2 separate regions of the Homo sapiens genome follow, and region 2 is linked to region 1. Evidence: fine-mapped expression QTL. A gene starts in region 1. The other region holds a variant in brackets. All regions are shown on one strand. Distances are between the middles of the regions. Region 1 holds the start of LACTB (lactamase beta). Region 2 overlaps RPS27L (ribosomal protein S27 like).

Region 1 (10,759 bases):
CTATCTTTTAATTCCTTGAATGAAACCGCCTCTTCCCACCACAAGGCCTTAGCATTTGCTAATTCCTTGCATGGAACACTTCCCTTCTCTTTCTGCCCATACTTAACCAAGGTAATTCCTGTTTATCCTTAAAGTCTTGGATGTAATTTCATTTCATTAGGAAAGTCTTCCTTCATCTCCCAGATCAGATAACATCTCACATTATAACCTCTCAACACAGTATGCACCTCTCCTTCACAGCACTCATTACAACTAGGATTTTACATTTAATCTTGCCGTTCTGTTTATCATGACTCTATTACCGTATAGACTGCAAGTTCCAGGAGGGCTGGGACTATGTCTATTCTGAGTTGTTGGACAGAAGTTTCTATTGGTGTACCAGTGGTTTCTGTCTGAGTCCCACTCAGTATTTTGTTTTGTTTTCCTGAGACAGGGTCTCGCTCTGTCACCCAGGCTGGAGTTCAGAGGCATGATCACAGCTCACTGCAGCCTCGACCTCCCAGGGTCAGCAGTCCTTCCACCTCAGCCTCCCAAGTAGCTGGTAGTCACAGGCCACCATGCCCGGCTAATTTTTTAAAATTTTCTGTAGAGAACGGGTCTCACTATGTTGCCAGGGCTGGTCTCAAACTCCTGGGCTCAAGCAATCCTCCCACCTTGGCCTCCTAGATTGCTGGGTGTGAGCCACCGTGCCCAGCCTATAGTTTAACTTTAAAGCAAGGATGATTAGTCCCTCCCCAAAACTAACCCCCAAGGAGATAAGATGGGTATACACATAAGTAACAATGTTATGTTAAAAATTTGTAAGAGCACTGTGACCTGACAAAGACAAAGAAGCTTACCCTTGCTGCCACCCAGATGTCTGTGGTCACTGGTCACCTTTTGACCTAAGCCTCTTCCCGTTTTCCCCCTCCCCTAACATAAAAGGAGCCCAACATTCACATTTACTTAAGATGCTTCTTTAGGACAGTAGTCTGCCATCTTGGTTTGCTGGCTCCACAGAATAAAGTCATCTTCCCTGCTCCAACGCCTGTCTCTTGACTGATTGGCTGTTGTGTGGTGAGCAGTACAAGCTTTGGACGCAGTTACAGCAGTCCATCAAAACTGTAGCTCCAGCTTCAGAAGAGATGATATTAAAGTTCTCTCATGATCTTTTATTTCCCCAATTTCTGATAAGTGCATTTTCATATTTATATGGTTTTGCTTCATTTATTCCTATTTTGTTTTGTAATTCCTTTTTTGTTGTGTAGATATTATACATTTATTTATCTTTTATATATATTTTCAACAAATATATAAAATATATAAATACACAAATATATAAAAAATATTTTATATATACTTGTTTTATATATTTCAATATATAAAAATATATATTTAAAAATATATATTTGTTTTAAAATATATATATTTGTTTTATTTTCTATCACCCATCTTTTTCTTAGCCAGGGAAAGGCCTCTCTTTTTCCTCTTTTCCTGTATATCCTTCTACTGATTTTATTTTGTTTGGGGTGATTTCACAATTTGGTGGTTGATTTTATTGTCAGTGTTTTTTAGAAAACTTTTAAAAATATGTTTTGGAAACTTGGTTTGCAGATTTATTTTTAGTGGAAAGTTTCTTTCCTTCCCCTTTTCCTCACTTTTTTTCTCTCTTCCCATTCTTCTCCATGTGTAGTCATTTACCTTTTTTATTTATTTTTTTTTTTGAGACAAAGTCTCGCTCTGTCATCTAGGCTGCAGTGCAGTGGCGTGATTTCAGCTCACTGCAACCTCCGCCTCCCGGGTTCCAGTGATTCTCCTGCCTCGGCCTCCCGAGTAGCTGGGACTACAAGTATGTGCCACCATGCCCAGCTAATTTTTGTATTTTTAGTAGAGACGGGGTTTCACCATGTTGGCCAGGCTGGTCTTGATCTCTTAACCTCGTGATCCACCTGCCTCAGCCTCCAAAAGTGCTGGGATTACAGGAGTGAGCCACCGCGCCTGGCCTGTTTACCTTTCTTCTATCTGGTCTCTGCGGCTCCCACCCCAAAGCCAGCTCAAATGCTGGGGCTCTGGGCTCCTGCCCTAGAGTTGTAGTAAAGATCCTGCCAACAAGTCTGCAGGCTGCTTGGTCAGGTTGCCTCCTGGGCACTCAGCTTGCTGGAGAACAATTTATTTTCTGTTACCTTCTGAGAAAAGAAAATAACTTTTATGTGAAGAATGCAAGTCCTTTCAAATTATCAGGCCCAGGGAGACATTAAAATGAGATGGTGGCTGAGTATTGTGGCTCACACCTGTAATCCCAGCACTTTGGGAGGTCGAGGTGGGAGGATCGCTTAAGCCCAGGTGTTTGAGATCAACCTGGGCAACATGGCGAAAGCCCATCTCTAAAAAAAATACAAAAATTAGCCAGGTGTGGTGGTGCATGCCTGTGGTCCTAGCTACTCAAGAGGCTAAGGTGGGAGGATCACCTGAGCCTGGGAGGTTGGGGCTGCAATGAGCCATGATCACGCCACTGCACTCCAGCCAGGGCAACAGAGTGAGACCTTATCTTAAAAAAAAAAAAAAAAAAAAAGAGATGGCATTCATGTCCTACCCCCACAATAAGCTATGTATTCATCTCTTGAAACTGCTTGCTGTTGCCACGAGTAGTTATAAATTAACCTAATAATGGGGCACCAGACGCTAGAACCCATACCCTGTTGCTTAACAATGTATATAGCCAATCATTGTTATTTCTGTAAACCAATGGGGATCCCTGACAAACAACTTTGTATCAGCCCATTCCCTGTCCCCCTTTTTTTGCCTTTAAAGGCAAAGGAGGACAGGGGAGCTCCCCTTAATGGGGAGCTCATTCCAAGTTTCCTTGGGTCTGAGTCTTCAGGGCAGCTGTCCTCACTTTGGCTAAAGTAAAGTCTTTAAATTATATTTTGTGCCTCAGCCTCTTCCTTTTAGGTTAACACTTCCCAGAAGCCATACTTCAAATGGCCTCTCTGTACCTGCTTCTAGACTGGAAGTCCACCAGGACATTGGCTTTTGCCCTGTACATGGCAAACACAGGGCTCTGTTTCTTTTTTTATTTTTTATCCAAGGAGAGGTACAGAAGAGTGCAAAAAACACATATGTGAAACCAGCCCAATTGTCCAATAGAATATGTTTATGGTTTATTTTGAATAAAGAGAGAAAATTGACCTGCCCAGTCTTAAAACTTGAGAAACTTACATTTGTCTTATCTGAGTTCCTTTTGGAGGAAACCAACCATCAGGTCTCCCAGATAGTATCAAGAAACTGAAACTTACCAGATCACCACATTTGGACAATGAGACACCAGATCCTTCACCTGTCATGATTGCCTAACCCAGCGGTTCCCAGCTTTTTTGGCACCAGGGACAGGTTTCATGGAAGAAAGTTTTTCCATGGGGTGTGGGGTTGGGGCTGATGGGTATGGTTTCAGGATGAAACTGTTCCACCTCAGATCATCAGGCATTAGTTAGATTATCATAAGGAGCAAGCAACCTAGATCCCTCACATGCGCAGTTCACAATAGGGTTCGAGCTCCTATGAGCATCTAAGGTCATGACTGATCTGACAGGAGGTGGAGCTCAGGCAATAATGCTCCCTCACCTGCCACTCACCTCCTGCTGTGTGGCCCAGTTCCTAACTAGTCCATGGCCCAGGGGTTGGGACCCCCGGCCTAACCAACCACCTGCTTCCTGTTGAACAATTCTTCTTCCTTATCCCTCCCTATTTCCTGTTTCCCCACACATAGTTACATTTCTTCCTTGCTATATAAACCCCTAATTTTAGTTAGCTGAGGAAATGGACTTGAGACTGAACTCCCGTTTCCCTGGCTGCAGCACCTGAAAAAGCTTTGTTTTCCCCCGGCGATACTCATTGTCTTGGTGACTGGCTTTCTGTGTGGCGAGCAATGGGATCTAGGCTAAACCCTTGGTGTTTCAGTAACATATGTACAGTTTAAAGAAAAATTATGTACAGTTTAAATAAAAGTGGGCACTCATAACCACCACTGACTGCGTCTTTTACATTTTTCTCTTTATATTTTTTCTCTCATGTTCTTGGAGTAGTGGTGACCCCCACCGTGGGAACCTCCAGTACTATCTTAATAGAGTACATCTGTCCACTATAACTGCAGTTTCAGTGTCAAACGCTCTGGGTCCTAGGATATTCTGGTCTCTTGGAGTCTTGGGTTTTGTGAGTAGCCCCAGAAGCTTTACTTATTTAGCCCCACTATTTTCTTGCTAGGTATGGATACCATTATTGCCTTTTCCTCCTATTAAATAATTATTACCTCAATATATTTATTTTGAGGTATGTATATGTTTACTCAGTAAGTTTATTACCTCAATATGTTTGTCCTGATGGCTTGTCAGTTCAAGTCTGTGAGCTCTCTTCTTTATTCCACCTGCAAGAAAAGACAGGGCCATTTTGTATATGGGGCATATTGCCCCAGTGCTGAAGGTATAAAGCCTACAAGCTTTCAAAGATTGTGTGTGTGTGTGTGTGTGTGTGTGTGTGTATGTATGTATCCCAAAATATAAAAATTACAAAACTGATAAATGTTTAAGTAACTTCAAATTAACATATCAATTTCATTACACGTTAAACTAGGATTTTATACACATTTTACATTTTGTAGCAATTTGAGATTAGGTTTCTTATTTCACAAGAATGTCTGATCATTTACAGATGCTGAGAAATCATAGGTAATTGTAAATTATAATAGTTACTTTTGGATTAAAATTTTTCAAGCACGAAATTTTTAAAAAACACTTTATCTTTTATAGCAAAAGAAAGGTAATATAAGGTCTGGATGTAACTTCATGTCTTTGGTACGGTGTGGAGCTAGAATTCCAGAAGCAATAGATTTTAAAACATCTTTAGGGAAATGGGTGAATTGAAATGAGACATAAGGGAGATGGCAAGAGAGTGAAAAGAAGCGCGTTCTAAAGGGGGAAAGGAGAAAGGGAAAGGAAAGGAGAAAGGCATCTCTAAAGGGAAAGGAGATGCCTGCTGAGCGTCTACTGTGTGCCCTGCGCTGTTCCAGAAGTTGAGGATCCAAAACTAAGTCTAGGCTCCCCAAAGAAGTCCCACTCTGGTAAGGAATCTGACAAGTAGTTAAATGATACAAAGTGTTAACTGTTGTTAAAGAAGTGTGCACACTGAGGGGCAAGATGGTAAGGGCGAGAACTCCCATGGGACGGGAACTAGGAAGGCTTCTGGGAGGTGACGCTTGATCTGAGGGTAAGCAAAGGAAAAAAAGGAAAGAGAGACAGAAAGGAAAAACAAGGAAGAGACAAGAAAAGGGAGAGGAAGAAGGGCTCGATGCGATCGGCGCTCGGGTAGTCAGGCGTCGACTGCTAGGGTCTGACCGCGGTCCCCACCCCCGTCCCGCCCCCTGCCCTTCCCTCCGCCCCGCGCCGCGGCTGGCAGGGTGTGCGTGAGTTTGGTGGCGGCCGGCTGTGCAGAGACGCCATGTACCGGCTCATGTCAGCAGTGACTGCCCGGGCTGCCGCCCCCGGGGGCTTGGCCTCAAGCTGCGGACGACGCGGGGTCCATCAGCGCGCCGGGCTGCCGCCTCTCGGCCACGGCTGGGTCGGGGGCCTCGGGCTGGGGCTGGGGCTGGCGCTCGGGGTGAAGCTGGCAGGTGGGCTGAGGGGCGCGGCCCCGGCGCAGTCCCCCGCGGCCCCCGACCCTGAGGCGTCGCCTCTGGCCGAGCCGCCACAGGAGCAGTCCCTCGCCCCGTGGTCTCCGCAGACCCCGGCGCCGCCCTGCTCCAGGTGCTTCGCCAGAGCCATCGAGAGCAGCCGCGACCTGCTGCACAGGATCAAGGTGCGGCCACTGGAGCGGGGGGCGTAGGGGGCCGGGGATCCACCCCTGTCGGCGGTGCTGTCGGGGGCTGAGTGGACCCCACCCGGGGCGGCGGGGTGCCCGCGATCGGCTTCCGAGAAAGACTTCCCATTTCCCCACCGCCGAGCCGTGGTCAGACGCTCTTGGGGGTTCCCCAAATCTGGGTGGAGGTCACCGCCTGTCTCGGGGACCGCCCCTTCCCCCTAGGGGGCGGACAGGCACATCCCTTGCTGTTAGTGAGTGACCATGGCCTGGGACGAGGTGGGCGGGGCCCAGGTGGAGGGGGCGGGGCCCAGGCTCAGGGGGCGGGGCCTTGGAAGGTCCCCGAGGAGAGCGCTGGGCTTTTTCAGCAGGCCCGTAACTGTCGGTTCTTTCCCCTTCGGTCTTAGGATGAGGTGGGCGCACCGGGCATAGTGGTTGGAGTTTCTGTAGATGGAAAAGAAGTCTGGTCAGAAGGTGGGTTCAGAAAATTGTTGTTTTGTTCTGTGCCAGTTGGTAAATAAAATATTGTTTTACTGGTTAGAGTGGATCCCATGAAATGCTATTGCATTTACATAAAACGATGCATATTGTAGAGAAAACATCTAACATAATAAAGAGTCAGGTGTTTTTAAATCACGGTAAGGTTTAAAATGTGACTAATAAATTGGAGTCATGAGGATGGCTACCCACTCCCACTTTTCTCTTAGGACTGGATTTATTAGTCTGAAAGTTTTATACAGTAGTCCCTCCTTATCCTGGGGATATATTCCAAGACCCTCAGTGGATGCCTGAAAAAGTGGATGATATTGAACCCTGTATATACTATATTTTATCTTATATATACATATCTATGATAAAGTTTATAAATCAGGCATAGTAAGAGATTAGCAACAATAATAAAATAGAACAATCACAACAATACTCTGAGTGGCATGCAATTTAAAGCTTACGAATTGTTTATTTCTGGAATTTTCCATTTAATACTTTCGGACCATGGATAACTGAAACTGAGGAAAGCGAAACCACAGATAAGGGGTAACTACTGTGTAGAACAATCCATTAACTGAGTACTTGCAGGTAACACTTATGGGTAGATAAAACTCAGAATTTGTGAAGTTTTCTTTTTTAATTAAGTTAACAATTTCTTGAGGCCTCTCTTCCGTAAAAAGCAAAGTGCTAAGTACTGGGGTTATACACTATTGTAGGGACCAGCCCCACAGGGTCGGTGGGTCTCTCCCTGTGTGCGGCGACGAGAGAGTGTAGAAATAAAGACACAAGACAAAGAGATAAAAGAAAAGACAGCTGGGCCCGGGGGACCGCTACCACCAATGCGCGGAGACCGGTAGTGGCCCCGAATGTCTGGCTGCGCTGTTATTTATTGGATACAAAGCAAAAGGGGCAGGGTAAAGAGTGTGGGTCATCTCCAATGATAGGTAAGGTCACGTGGGTCACGTGTCCACTGGACAGGGGGCCCTTCCCTGCCTGGCAGCCGAGGCAGAGAGGGAGAGGAGACAGAGGGAAAGACAGCTTATGCCATTATTTCTGCATATCAGAGACTTTTAGTACTTTCACTAATTGACTACTGCTATCTAGAAGGCAGAGCCAGGTGTACAGGATGGAACATGAAGGCGGACTAGGAGCGTGACCACTGAAGCACAGCATCACAGGGAGACGGTTAGGCCTCCGGATAACTGCGGGCAAGCCTGACTGATGTCAGGCCCTCCACAAGAGGTGGAGGAGCAGAGTCTTCTCTAAACTCCCCCGGAGAAAAGGAGACTCCCTTTCTGGTTCTACTAAGTAGCGGGTGTTTTTTCTTGACGCTCTTCGCTACCGCTAGACCACGGTCCGGCTGGCAACGGGCGTCTTCCTAGATGCTGGCGTTACCGCTAGACCAAGGAGTCCTTCTGGTGGCCCTGTCTGGGCGTAACAGAACGCTCGCAGTCTTGTCTTCTGGTCACTCCTCACTGTGTCCCCTCAGCTCCTATCTCTGTATGGCCTGGTTTTTCCTTGGCTATGATTATAGAGCAAGGATTATTATAATATTGGAATAAAGACTAATTGCTACAAACTAATAAGATTAATGATATATATAATCATATCTAAGATCTATATCTGGTATAACTATTCTTGTTTTATATTTTATTATACTGGAACAGCTCGTGTCCTCGGTCTCTTGCCTCAGCGCCTGGGTGGCTTGCCGCCCACACACTATTCCTTGTCTTTAATGACTTTTCAGTCTACTTTATTAGGCTTTTTAACCAGGTAGAGGTGTCATCTATTTTTTTCAAACAGAAGGCAAAAAACTTAGGGAGAGGGATTTCTATTCATTTTATGATACTTTTATCAAGGCATTATTTTTCATAACTTCTCTGTTGCACAGAAATTGATCTAATTGGTCATCCTAGGTTTCTAGGAGTCCCACTTTTAGAAAATGATGTTTCAGGCCAGGTGCAGTGGCTCACGCCTGTAATCCTAGCACTTTGAGAGGCAGAGGCAGGTGGGTTGCCTGAGCTTAGGAGTTCGAGACCAGCCTGGACAACGTGGCAAAACCCCATCTCTACTAAAAACACAAAAAATTAGCCAGCCATGCTAGTGCGTGCCTGTAATCTCAGCTACTCGGGAGGCCAGGATACGAGAATCGCTTGAACTCGGGAGGCGGAGGTTTGCAGTGAGCCAAGATCGTTCACTGCACTCCAGCCTGGGCAACAGCGAGACTCTGTCTCAAAAAAAAAGAAAAAAAAATGTTTCATATGCCATTTAAAGGCAGTAAGTTGATGGGCGCAGTAGGGGTTTGAATTTGAAGAAAAATGGGCCAGTTGAGGTGGCGCACGCCTGTAATCCCAGCGCTTAGGGAGTCCAGGGAGGAAGGATGGCTGAAGACCAGAAGTTTGAGACCAGCTTAGGCACCATAGCGACACCTGTGTCTCTATAAAAAAAATTTTATTTATTTATTTTTTTTTTGGAGTTTCACTCTTGTTGCCCAGGCTGGAGTGCAATAGTGCGATCTCAGCTCACCACAACCTCCACCTCCCAGGTTCAAGTGATTCTCCTGCCTCGTCCTCCCGATTAGCTGGGATTACAGGCATGCACCACCACGCCTGGCTAATTTTTGTATTTTAAGTAGAGACGGGGATTCTCCATGTTGGTCAGGCTGGTCTCGAACTCCCGACCTCAGGTGATGCGCCTGCCTCGGCATCCCAAAGTGCTGGGATTACAGGCGTGAGCCACCGTGCCCAGCTTAAAATTTTTTAAAAAAGGAAAATGATTCTTCCTTCAAGTATAAGTATAATCTAATCATTATACCTAATTTATGATAAGTCTTGTAATCAAAAATTATATAAATGTCAGCTTTATGGACTTTATGCAAATATTTTTTAGATATTTAAGATTATACAAATTTATAGTCATTGTATTCCTTTTCTTTTCAGATCTCTGTTCTCTTTTTATTTATTTATTTATTTATTTTTTGGACAGGGTCTCTTACTGTGTCTCCCAGGCTGGCGTGCAGTGGTGTGATCTTGGCTCACTGCAATCTCAAACTCCTGGGCTCAGATGATTCTCCCACCTCAGCCTCCTGACTAGCTGAGACTACAGGTGCACTCCACCACGCCAGGCTTTTTTCTTTCTTTCTTTCTTTTTTTTTTTTGTATATTTTGTAGAGATGCGGTTTCTGCCATGTTGCTCAGGCTAGTCTCGAAATCCTGAGCTCAAGTAATCCACCCGTCTCCGCCTCCCAAAGTGCTGGGATTGCAGGCACTTTCTCTTTCTTAGTTAGATTTACGCACTTTCAGCCTGTGAGAACATGGAAACCAAATTTAAAATTTTTTCTAGAAAAAGCTTTAAGTTAGTACATAATTTTCCTCCTGGTTTGCAGTCGAATTAAATTGATGGTTAGCTAGATTTGGTTTGCAGGACATCTTTTCACACATTTTTGAGACAGTTTCACTTTGTCGCCCTGGCTGGAGTGCAGTGGCGTTTTCTCAGCTCACCGCAACCTCTGCCTCCAAGGTTCAAGCGATTCTCCTGCCTCAGCCTCCCGAGTAGCTGGGATTACAGGCACACGCCACCATGACTGGCCAATTTTTGTATTTTTAGTAGAGACGGGGTTTTACCATGTTGGCCAGGCTAGTCTTGAACTCCCAATCTCAGGTGATCTGCTCACCTTGGCCACCCAAAGTGCTCAGATTATAGGCATGAGTCACCATGCCCGGCCCACACTTACTTTTATTGAGTGGCTATTTCAAGGAATTCAGTGGAAATTTACTCAAAAGTCAAAAATAAATATAATCTGAAGAAGAATAATGATGTTTTCTTTAAAGAATACTTTATTTAAAATGTGGAATAACTCAGTTGTTTAGATAAGCTAAGAAAAATTTGTATCTAAGTCATAGAAAATTGCTATTGCAAACAGGGTACAATTTCACTTTAGTTATAAGGTTAAATTGTTAGGCTTACCGATATACTAAGATTTTAATCCTTTACATGTCCAGTGTTAAGTAACTTATAAAAGTGGAGTATCTTTTCTTTTAGATAAACACAGCATGTTTAAAGATAGTATTATTTCAGGGTTTGAAAACTTGTTTGACCATGAAGCCTGTTAATAGTGACTTTTTGCTTTTTTCCCCCAAAGGTTTAGGTTATGCTGATGTTGAGAACCGTGTACCATGTAAACCAGAGACAGTTATGCGAATTGCTAGCATCAGCAAAAGTCTCACCATGGTTGCTCTTGCCAAATTGTGGGAAGCAGGGAAACTGGATCTTGATATTCCAGTACAACATTATGTTCCCGAATTCCCAGAAAAAGAATATGAAGGTGAAAAGGTACTGAAACTCACAGTTCATTTTACTAATGGCATGTTAAATGGTTTATGCTGGAATTTATATTTAAAATGTTTCATAGGATTCTTTGGCTTGTTTTTAGTTATTGTTAATG
Region 2 (10,759 bases), 26 kb after region 1:
TGTAGAATTGGTTCTTTATACTCAGGGAAGTAATTATATTGTTTTTACTTTTTGAAAAAAGTGTTAACTCTTGAAATAAAATATTCTGATAAAATATGTACTTTCTGCATGTGTAATACAGAGAAAATCTCATTCAACAGGAGCCTCCAAATATCCGAGGTTTTTTTTCTTTTCTTTTTTTTTTTTTTTTTTTTTTGAAATGGACTCTTGCTGTGTTACCCAGCCTGGAGTGCAGTGGTGTGATCTTGGCTCACCACAACCTCTGCTTCCTGAGTTCAAGCGATTCTCCTGCCTCAGCCTCCCAAGTAGCTGGGATTACAGGCACCCACCACCATGCCCAGCCACTTTTTGAATTTTTAATAGAGACAGCATTTCGCCATGTTGGCCAGGCTGGTCTCGAACTCTTGATCTCAGGTGATCCATCCGCCTCAGCCTGCCAAAGTGCTGGGGATTACAGGCGTGAGACACTGTGCCCAGCCCAAATATCCTTTTAATATGAGAGCAGAAACAAAAGCATGAGAAATGGTATATTAGTTATCCACTACAGCTTAAAAGAAACGTTCAGAGAAGGAATCGGGAAATCAGGAGCAATATAGTCACGTGGGTCTGGCGCGGTCTCTAATGAGGTTGCAGACAAGGTGTTATGATCATCTGAAGAATTCTCCAGGGCTGGAGGAAATGCTTCCACATGGCTTACTTGCATGACTGCTGGCAAGAGTCAGTTCTCTGGCTGGTGGGTGGCAAGGGGACTCAGTTTGTCACCACATGGACCTCTCTGTAGGGCTGCTTGAGTATCTTATGGTAGTTGGCTTCCCGCAGAGTAAGTGATGAGACAGAGAGTGCCAGGCAGAAGTCACTCTTTTATAAACTAGCCTCAAGTCACATACCATCACATTTGCCAAATTCCATGGGTTACATGGGGCCTAATAAATGTTGAAGAGATTATATACATTGTGAATATTAGGAGGCAGGAATCACTGGGTGTCAACTTGGAAGTTGGGTACCACAGTCTGACCTCTGGTCCCCAATGATTTATGTCCTTCCCAATGCAAAATACTCTTACCTCCTTTCAAATCCTCCAGAAGTTTCACCTTAATATAGCATCAGCTCAAAGCCCAGTATCTTATCATCTAAATCAGGTCAGGTGCAAGTGTGAATGAGGGCTCCTTGGGATGAGTTCCTTAGGTACAGCAACTCAAGTAGTTTCTCTTAAGACCTGTGAACTGTAGTTATTTGCTCCCCATATGTGTAACATACCGTAGCACAGCAGATATAGGATAATTGCTAGATACCGTCCTCTTCAAAAAGTAGGGAAGTGGAAGACATACAGGAGACTGGCAATTCTGAAATTCAGTCAGACAGAGGTTGGCAACTCTGATTAGTATTCAAGGCTTCAGAATAATTCTTAGTTCTTGGCTATGTTCTCTGGGCTCTTAGTTCTACCTTACGAGTTATACTTTTTCTTTTTTTTAAGAGACAGCTGTTCACCATATTTCCCAGGCTGGTCTTCAACTACTGGGCTCAAGTGATCCACCCACCTCAGCCTCCCAAAGTGCTGGGATTATAGGCATGAGCCACCGCACCCAGCCCCTGAGTTATACTTTTTTTAATTGTTCTTTTTTACTTTTTTTTTTTTTTTTTTGAGACAGGGTTTCCCTCTGTCACCCAGGCTGGAGTACAGTGGCACAATCTCGGCTCACTGCAGCCTTAGCCTCCTGGGTTCAAGCAATTCTCCCACCTCAGCCTCTCGAGTAGCTGGGATTACAGGTGCGTGCCACCACTCCCGACTAATTTTTGTATTTTTAGTAGAGACAGCGTTTCACCATGTTGGCCAGGCTGGTCTCGAACTCCTGACCTCAGGTGATCCGCCCCCCTCGGCCTCCCAAAGTGCTGGGATTACAGGCGTGAGCCACTAAGCCTGGCCGCTTCCCCATACCTTTTTTTCATGAAAGGTAGCGTATCTTTCTAGCTGAGTGGTTTTCTCAGTGTGCTTTCCACTTGTAGAAGTTTGGAGACCCAAAGGCCTTTTTATACTCTCTTTCCTTTCCATCTAAGTTAACAGTGGTTCTGCCAATATAATATTTTATTTCTCTAATTTTTGAATTTTTTTTAGCAACCCTATTAACTGACAATATAATATTTTAAAATGTTAAGAGTATCCTGTGAATTTTATTGGGGTTTATGCCAGTAGACAAAAGCCACCCCAAAGTCCCTTCAGAATATCCCCTCTCTAACTTGGGGCTTGTCTCTGCCAAGATAATGGGAAGAACTAATTACGCTAATAATCTAATGAACTCTATTGTTTAAATAGTTCTCTGAAGCACCATGTTGATTCATTTTGAAGTCTTGAGAAAGGATTGTATAGTCATGCCCTCAATATCATCTTTAGACTATGTTTTCCTGGAAGTGCCCTCAATTATTATCTTTGCCTTGAAGCCATTTCTTAATTTTGGCATCATTTGCAATCTGAAGAGTCTGGGAATTTTTTAAACCATCAATTATTAATTCTTTACCAATAGTTCTTCCATTAGCTTATCTTTCTCTTGCATGTTAGTATAAGCAACAAGAATTAAGGAAGCACATTCAACACTGTGTATGGCTCTCTGCTCCTTCTCTTGCCCTGTGACATCCGGGCTCCCCCTTCTCTTTCCGCCATGGTTGTAAGCTTCCTGAGGCCCTCACCAGAAGCACATGCCAGCACCATGCTTCCTGTCCAGCCTGCAGAACCGTGAGCCAAATAAACCTCTTTTTATAAATTACCCAGCCTCAAAACAAAAAAACAAAAAACAACAACAAAAAAAAAAAAACACTGCATATGGAAATCCCATCAGCTAGTCACCCAATTCATTAGGCACATTTTCTGTTTTCTGAGTTACTCCTGGCGACAGTGTTGCTAAATTTTCTGTCAGTACTAAACAAGAATCCCTTCCTCTAATTGCCAATAAGATTTCTCTTACTTTCCTTAAGACTACACCTGCAGCCTCTTCAAAGGCCATACTTCTCAACAATTTCTTCAAGGCTCTTCAGGTTTTCATTAACACTTTCCTTAAAGTCCTTCCAACTTCCATCCGCTGCTCTGTTCCAAATACATACACACATACACACACACACGTAATTTAGATATAATTCACAGTCCATATGCCATAAAATTCTTTAACGTGTACAATTCAGTGGTTTTTAGTATAGTCACGAGATTATGTACCCATTACCACTATCCAATTCATTTTCACCCCAAGAAGAAACCTCATACCCATTAGCATTTGCTCCCCATTCCTCTGTCCTTCCAGCCCCTGGTAACCAGCAATCTACTTTCTATCTCTTTGGATTTGCCTGTTACGGATGTTTCATATAAATGGAATCACACCATATCTGGCCTTCTGTGTCTTGAGCTTTTTCCTGTAGTATAATGTGTATTAGTTATCTATTACTGCATAACAAATTACCCCAAAGCTTATTGTCTCACAGTTTGTGTTTCAGAAATTTGGGGGCAGCTTTGCTGGGTGTTTCTAGCTCAGGGTCTCATGAGTTTGTAGACAAGATGTCAGCAGGGGCTTCAGGCATCTGAGGGAAGGCTTGACTGGGGCTGGATAATCTGATTCCAAAATGATTCACCCACGTGGCCATGGGCAAGAGGTCTTTGTGGCTTGCTGGCTTTGGGCAAGAGTTTTCAGTTTCTCACCACATGGCCCTCTCCATAGGTCTGCTTGTCTGTGCTATGGCTTCCCTTTAGAGCAGGCGATTGAAGAAACAGGGAAACACCTCAATGTCTTTTATAAATCAGCCTTGGAAGCCATATGCCATCACTTATGCCAAATTCTGTTGGTTACAGAAACCAACCCTGATTTGGTGTGGGAGAGGACTGTAGAAAGGAGTGGATACCAGAAGGTTGGGATCATTGGGAGCCATTTTGGAGGCTGCAGTGTTAACGTATTGGGGAATTTTGTTCTAACAGCCACAGATCATGTGTACTAGAGATTACCAGTGTGCCACTGAACTCAGGAAAATTCAAAAAGAAATCAAAGTTTTTATACACCCTAATAAAGGAAGGGCTTTTCTATAATTCTGAGCCCTAAATCTGTTTCTTCCCTTAACACTTTATACAAGTAAATAGATGGATATCTCTGAGTTGGTTGAAGTAGAAAGAGAGCAGCTCTCTAAAACAGATCCATTTCATCTCCTTATTTCTTTCTGACTTCTGATCTCTAGGTCCTGTATTCATGTTTGTCAAGTTTTCAATCCGTGCCCTTAGATAAACATAAAAATGTCATGCCTTTCTTTAATGTTATTTTAACATTAAATGTTTAATGTTTCTTTAATGTTAGTGTTTTATGTTATTTGGAATTTATTTATTTTTTAGAAACAGAATCTTGCTCTGGCACCCAGGCTAGAGTGCAGTGACATGATCGTAACTCACTGTAACCTGGGCTCAAGTGATCCGCCCACCTTGGCCTTCCAAAGTGCTGGGATTACAGGCATGAACCACCATGCCTGGGCCCCCATTTGGAATTTTCTTTTATTTTTATTTATTTATTTATTTAGAGATAGGGTCTCACTCTGTCACCCAGGCTGGAATGCAGTGGTACAATCATGGTTCACTGCAGCCTTGACCTTCCAGCCTCAGGTGATCTTCCCACCTCAGCTTCCTGAGTAGCTAGAAATGCAGGTGCACTCCACTATGCCTGGATAATTTTTTGTAGAGTAGGGGTTTCACAATATTGTCCAGGCTGATCTTGAACTCCTGGACTCAAGCAATCCTCCTGCCTCAGCCTCTCAAAGTGCTGGGATTACAGGCATGAGCTACCGTGCCCGACCACCAATTCTTTGATGGCCACGATTTCCTCTCATTCCATTGTGCATGCAACTTTGCAATGTGATTTTGCTGCTTTTTCCATCCAAAGGTGGAGCTCTTTCTCCACTCTCTTGAATCTGGTCTTGCTTTATGATTTGCTTTTTGACCCACTGAATGTGGTGGAAATAATGTTGCACAAGTCCCACTGCATAGGCTTTAAGTGGCTTTCAAGCTTTTGTCTGCCACCTTCTAAGAACACTACCCCAAGATTGCCATGTAAAGAAGCCAGACTAGCTTACTGAAGGATGGGGGACCATGTGGAGGGGAACAGAGATGCCCCAGCTGACAGCTAGCACCAGCTGCCAGACCTATGATTTGAGCCTCCAGGTGAAGGTGGCTGTGTAAGTGAACCTAGATGAGACCAACAGAGTAAGCAGCCAACTCATATACTCATGAGAAATAGTAATAAGTCAACATTTTAAGCTATTAGATTTGGGGGTGACTTGTTTTGTAGCAAAAGTTAACATATCTATGCTCCAGTGTGGTGGTAAGGTGGGTAAATCACTTTAGGGAAAAAATGGAACATTAAAGTACTTGATGTTGAATAGACATGACTGCTTTCCACTTAAAAAAAAA[T/A]ACCACACAAACTATTTTTTTTTTTTTAAGACACAGTTTCGCTCTTGTTGCCCAAGCTGGAGTACAATGGCGCGTTCTCGGCTCACTGCAACCTCCACCTCCCAGGTTCAAGTGATTCTCCTGCTTCAGCCTCCTGAGTAGCTGGAACTACCGGCACATGCCACGCCCGGCTAATTTTCGTATTTTTAGTACAGACGGGGTTTCATCGTATTGGTCAGGCTGGTCTCAAACTCCTGACCTCAGTTGATCCACCCGCCTTGACCTCCCAAAATGCTGAGATTACAGACGTGAGCCATCGCGCCTGGCCCACACAAACTATTAACAGAGCACTTACTGTGGGGAAGGCATTTTGCTAAGCTCTTTGTATATGCTATCTCATTATACCTTCAACATAACTCTATTAAGTAGAAATATTATTATTTTTTCACAAGGTCACAAACCATTAACTAGCACTTGTTTCAAACCCACACATATCTGACTCTAAAGCCTGTTTTAACCATTATCGTGACTTCCCATAAAAAGCATCTCTAGGCCAACGCAGTAGCTCACACCTGTATTCCCAACGCTCTGGAAGGCTGAGATGGGCGGACCACTTGAGCCCAGAAGTTGAGACCAGCCTGGGCAACATGGTGAAACCCTGTCTCTACAAAAAATACAAAAATAAACCAGGTATGGTGGCATGGGCCTGTAGTCCCAGCTACTTGGGAGAATGAGGCGGGAGGATCACTTGAGCCCAGGAGGCAGAGGTTGCAGTGAGGCGAGATCGCATCGCTGCACTCTCTAGCTTGGGCAACAAAGCAAGACTCTGTCTAAAAAAAAAAAAAAGGCATCTCTAAAAATTTACCAATCCAATAAAAGTCATATTTAATGGCATGCAATTTTATTGATGCAGTCTTCAGTTTAAAAGTTTGTCACATAAAAATGAATAAAAATAAATATGTTGGTATTTTAATTAGTTGGCTACAAATAAAGAAAAAACACAACTTCAAATTAATACAAAGACAAGATAAAGAACATAGAGTCATAATCTTACACAACCCCTCTGTTCTAAATACATAGCATGATATATAAAATGTGTAATGAGAAAATTAAAAAGACTTTCATAGACACAAAACACTGAGCAGGGCTGAAGCTGAGGGTCTGCCGGGCTCTGGTTCAAAAGGCTGTGGCAGCTCCAATTTCTGTTCCTATAGAATAACTGAAACTAACACTGCTTCCCTAAGATTTAAAATGAAAGCTTATTAACTAAATTAGGACTATTCTGCCTAAATTCTTTGAAAGGTGAAGTTTTGCTAGGTGTGAAAGTGAGAGTAGCCCTAGTAGTGTAGGGGGAAAGCGAGCCAGAATCAGTAGGACACAAATCAGCAGAGAAAATTTGCAATTCTGGCATCTCCTTTGAAACAAAATTCAAAGGCTATTTAAGTGTCGATCAATAGCAAACACCATGACCTGATGTCATTTCTTTTTTTTTTTTTTTTTTTTTTTTCTGAGACAGTCTTGCTCTGTCGCCCAGGCTGGAGTGCAGTGGTACGATCTGGGCTCACTGCAAGCTCCGCCTCCCAGGTTCAAGCAATTCTCCTGCCTCAGCCTCCCGAGTAGCTGGGACTACAGGCGCCCGACACCACGCCCAGCTAATTTTTGTATTTTTAGCAGAGACGCGGTTTCATCATGTTGGCCAGGATGGTCTCAATCTCGACCTCGTGATCCGCCGCCTGGGCCTCCCAAAGTGTTGGGATTACAGGCGTGAGCCACCGCGCCCGGCCCCTGATGTCATTTTCTATGCCTATAGTTGTGAAAAAGTAGCTGTAAAATCCTAAAAGAATACAAGGTCATTATTCTATAAAAGTTATCCTTTTCTTTGTAAAATGCAATAATGTACTCTATTCCTTCCAAAGATTTAAGTTTTTTTCCATGGAAAATTACGAAGACATGAGAGGCCGAGGCAGGCGGATCACGAGGTCAGCAGATCGAGACCATCCTGGCTAACACGGTGAAACCCCATCTCTACTAAAAATACTTTAAAAAAATTAGCCCGGCGTGGTGGCACACGCCTGTAGTCTCAGGTACTCTGGAGGCTGAGGCAGGAGAATGGCGTGAACCCAGGAGGAGGAGCTTGCGGTGAACTGAGATTGCGCCACTGCACTTCAGCCTGGGCGACGGAGCAAGACTCCGTCTCAAAAAAAAAAAAAAAAAAGAAAGAAAAAGAAAAAAGAGAATTACAAAGACATAATTTAAGAATCTCAGTTTCCAAATATGGGGTAGAATTTTACAACTTTATATTCTGTGGTAGCAGAATAATGGCCCTCTAAAGATTCCCACACCCTAATCCCCAGAACCTACGAATATGTTACCTTACATAGCAAAATGGATTTTGCAGATGTCATTAAGAATACTTTATTTGGCCGGATGCAGTGGCTCACACCTGTAATGCCAGCACTTTGGGAGGCTGAGGTGGGCGGATGGCCTGAGGCAAGGAGTTCAAGACCAGCCTGGGCAACATGGCGAAACCCCATCTCTACAAAAAATACAAAAAATTAGCGGGGTGTGGTGGCACGTGCCTGTAGTTCCAGCTACTCGGGAGGCTGAGGCCAGAGGGTCACTCAAGCCTGGGAGGTGGAGGAGGTTGCAGTGAGCTGAGATCACGCCACTGCACTCCACCTAGGGAACAGAGCAAGACTCCATCTCAAAAATAAATAAATAAAAAGTGAAAACACTCTAAGTATCTATCAACTGATGAATGGATAAACATTGTATATTATTACACAGAATATTGTCAAAAAAAGGAATGAAATATTGATACATGCAACAGCATGGACAGCCCTTGAAAACATTATGCTAAGTGAAACATACAGAAGCTACATACCATGTGATTCCATTTATACGAAATAGCATTATATGAAATATTGAGAAGAAGCAAATCCATGGAGACAAAAGTAGCTTAGTGGCTGCCAATGGCTGAGAGGAGGGAAGAATAGGGAGTGAATGCTGATAGGTATGAAGTTTCTTTCTAAGGTGATGAAAATGGTCTGGGATTAGACAGTAGTAATGGTTGCACAACCTTGTAAATATAGTAAAAACTACTGACTTTTACATCACAGAAGTTTGGATTTTATAGTATCTGAATCATATCTCCAGAAAAATAAAACAGAAAGGAATTAGAGCTTTATCAGATGACTTACAGGAACGACCAGACACAAAACCATTTGTCATCTCATCAGGCCAGAAGCCAAGAATTTCATTTTATTTTTAGCTTATTTATTTTTTTCTTGAGCTGGAGTCTTGCTCTGTCACCCAGGCTGGAGTGCAGAGGCGTGATCTTGGCTCACTGCAAGCTCCGCCTCCCAGGTTCACGCCATTCTCCTGCCTCAGCCTCCCAAGTAGCTGGGACTACAGGCGCCCACCACCATGCCCGGCTAATTTTTTGTATTTTTAGTAGAGACGGGGTTACACCGTGTTAGCCAGGGTGGTCTCGATCTCCTGACCTCGTGATCCACCCGCCTCGGCCTCCCAAAGTGCTGGGATTATAGGCGTGAGCCACTGCGCCCGGCCTATTTTTAGCTATCTTTATGTAACTGGTTTTTCCATTTAGGAAGCCTTCCCCTAAAAATAAATTTATATTAAGTTTATGGAAGGTTTCCTTTACAAATATATTTACATTAAAATATGAAGTCAATATAAATAATATTTAAAACATTCAGTATATAATAATGTATGTGGCTGACCCTGAAGTTTGGGAAAGTCCTGGTGTCCTATTCAGCACTTTTCAAAACCAGTAATACCATCTAGATTAATAATAAAGTAAAACTTAATACACCATTCGTTTCCCAATGCCATGTAAATCCTTAGATGTGTTCTTTCTTTGAGACACAGCTTCACGCTGTCACCCAGGCTGAAGTGCAGTGGTGCGATTTTGGCTCACTGCAACCTCTGCCTCCTGGTTTCAAGCAATTCTTGTGCCTCAGCCTCCCAAGTAGCTGGGACTACAGGTGTACACCACCACGCCCAGCTAATTTTTGTATGTTTAGTAGAGACGGGGTTTCACTGTGTTGGCCAGGCTGGTCTCGAACTCCTGACTGCAAGTGATCTGCCTGCCTCAGCCTCCCAAACTGCTGGGATTATAGGTGTGAGCCACCGCGCCCAGCCCTTAGATGTGGTCTTTAAAGTATAATCCTTTTTTAAAAAATACTTCCAAGGGAATTTTCAGGGTTTGTTAGATTAGTCCTCATCATAGGTTTGATTCCTTCTCATCAAAAGCTGTCATCCCACTGTCTCTCCTTATAGCCAAGTATCCTAAACTGTGCAAGCTGAAGTGCCTTGGAGTACCTCAGGAAAAACACTTGACACTGACGCATCTTTTGTATAAACTACTAGTTCCAGGAAGTTCAGTTTCAATATGATATGGCACTACATTCCCTTTGATGGCATCCTATCCTTGTGAAGCTGGGTTTGGAGCCACTGCTATGACAAAAAGCACCATGCAAAAATCAATGTGGAAGAAATAAGGACAATGGTGTCCAATCTGATTTCAATTTTGAGAAACTGTATGGAGCCCAAAAGGCACACACATTCCATTAGTAACTGTGATGATTTAAGGATGAGATAAAAATTATCACATCAGGCTGGGCACAGTGGCTCACACCTGTAATCCCAGCACTTTGGTAGGCCAAGGCAGATCACCTGAGGCCAGGAGTTCCTTACAGCCTGGGCAACACAGCCAGAGCCCCATCTCTACAAAAAAATTAGGCGGGCGTGGTGGCACGTGCCTGAAGTCTCCGCTACTCAGGAGGCAGAGGTGGGAGGCTTGCTTGAGCCCAGGAGTTTGAGGTCACAATGAGCTATGACCCTCCAACCTGGGCAATAGAGCCAAGACACTGTCTCTATTTTTAAAAAAATCATCACATCACTTTTGCTCTTGTGTGTGTATAGTTTTTTTCAAATGGCTACTAGAGTTGTTAGAACATAAGTTAATAAATGTAACTGTTAGGTATTTCTTTTGGCCAAGGAATGGCCTGAAAAAAATTACTGAGATTCTAATGATGTCAGAAACTAAAAGTCTGAGAATCTCTGGGTCATCTACATATATATGTATATATATATATTTTTTTTTTCTTTTTTTTTTTGAGACGGAGTTTCGTGCTTGTTGCCCAGGCTAGAGTGCAATGGCACGATCTTGGCTCACCACAACCTCCACCTCCCAGGTTCAAGCGAATTCTCCTGCCTCAGCCTCCCGAGTTAGCTGAGATTACAGGCATGCACCACCACGCCCAGCTAATTTTGCATTTTTAGTAGAGACGGGGTTTTTCCATGTTGGTCAGGCTGGTCTTGAACTCCCGA

What was found. PIP is the estimated chance that this variant, and not a neighbour inherited with it, causes the effect. A credible set is the group of variants that fine-mapping cannot tell apart.
Region 2: its variant is the best candidate, but not a certain one, in a credible set for the expression of LACTB in fibroblasts (GENCORD, PIP 0.51).

The regions. Positions count from the first base shown.
Region 1 is chr15:63,116,403-63,127,161 of GRCh38, forward strand. LACTB (lactamase beta) reads left to right here and starts at 5,459. Exons shown (of 6, transcript NM_032857.5): 1 at 5,459-5,826; 2 at 6,234-6,300; 3 at 10,457-10,647. The coding sequence starts at 5,470. It overlaps LOC107984798 (a long non-coding RNA gene), which reads right to left and starts at 5,365. Exons shown (of 2, transcript XR_001751584.1): 1 at 4,338-5,365. RefSeq lists silencers at 5,348-5,927, 5,948-6,017, 6,028-6,217.
Region 2 is chr15:63,141,966-63,152,724 of GRCh38, forward strand. RPS27L (ribosomal protein S27 like) reads right to left here. Exons shown (of 4, transcript NM_015920.4): 4 at 6,284-10,759. LACTB (lactamase beta) reads left to right here. Exons shown (of 6, transcript NM_032857.5): 6 at 1-96. Among named protein-coding and RNA genes, the nearest start is that of RPS27L, 10 kb to the right of the region's middle. The variant T/A (reference allele first, on the strand shown) is at 5,426.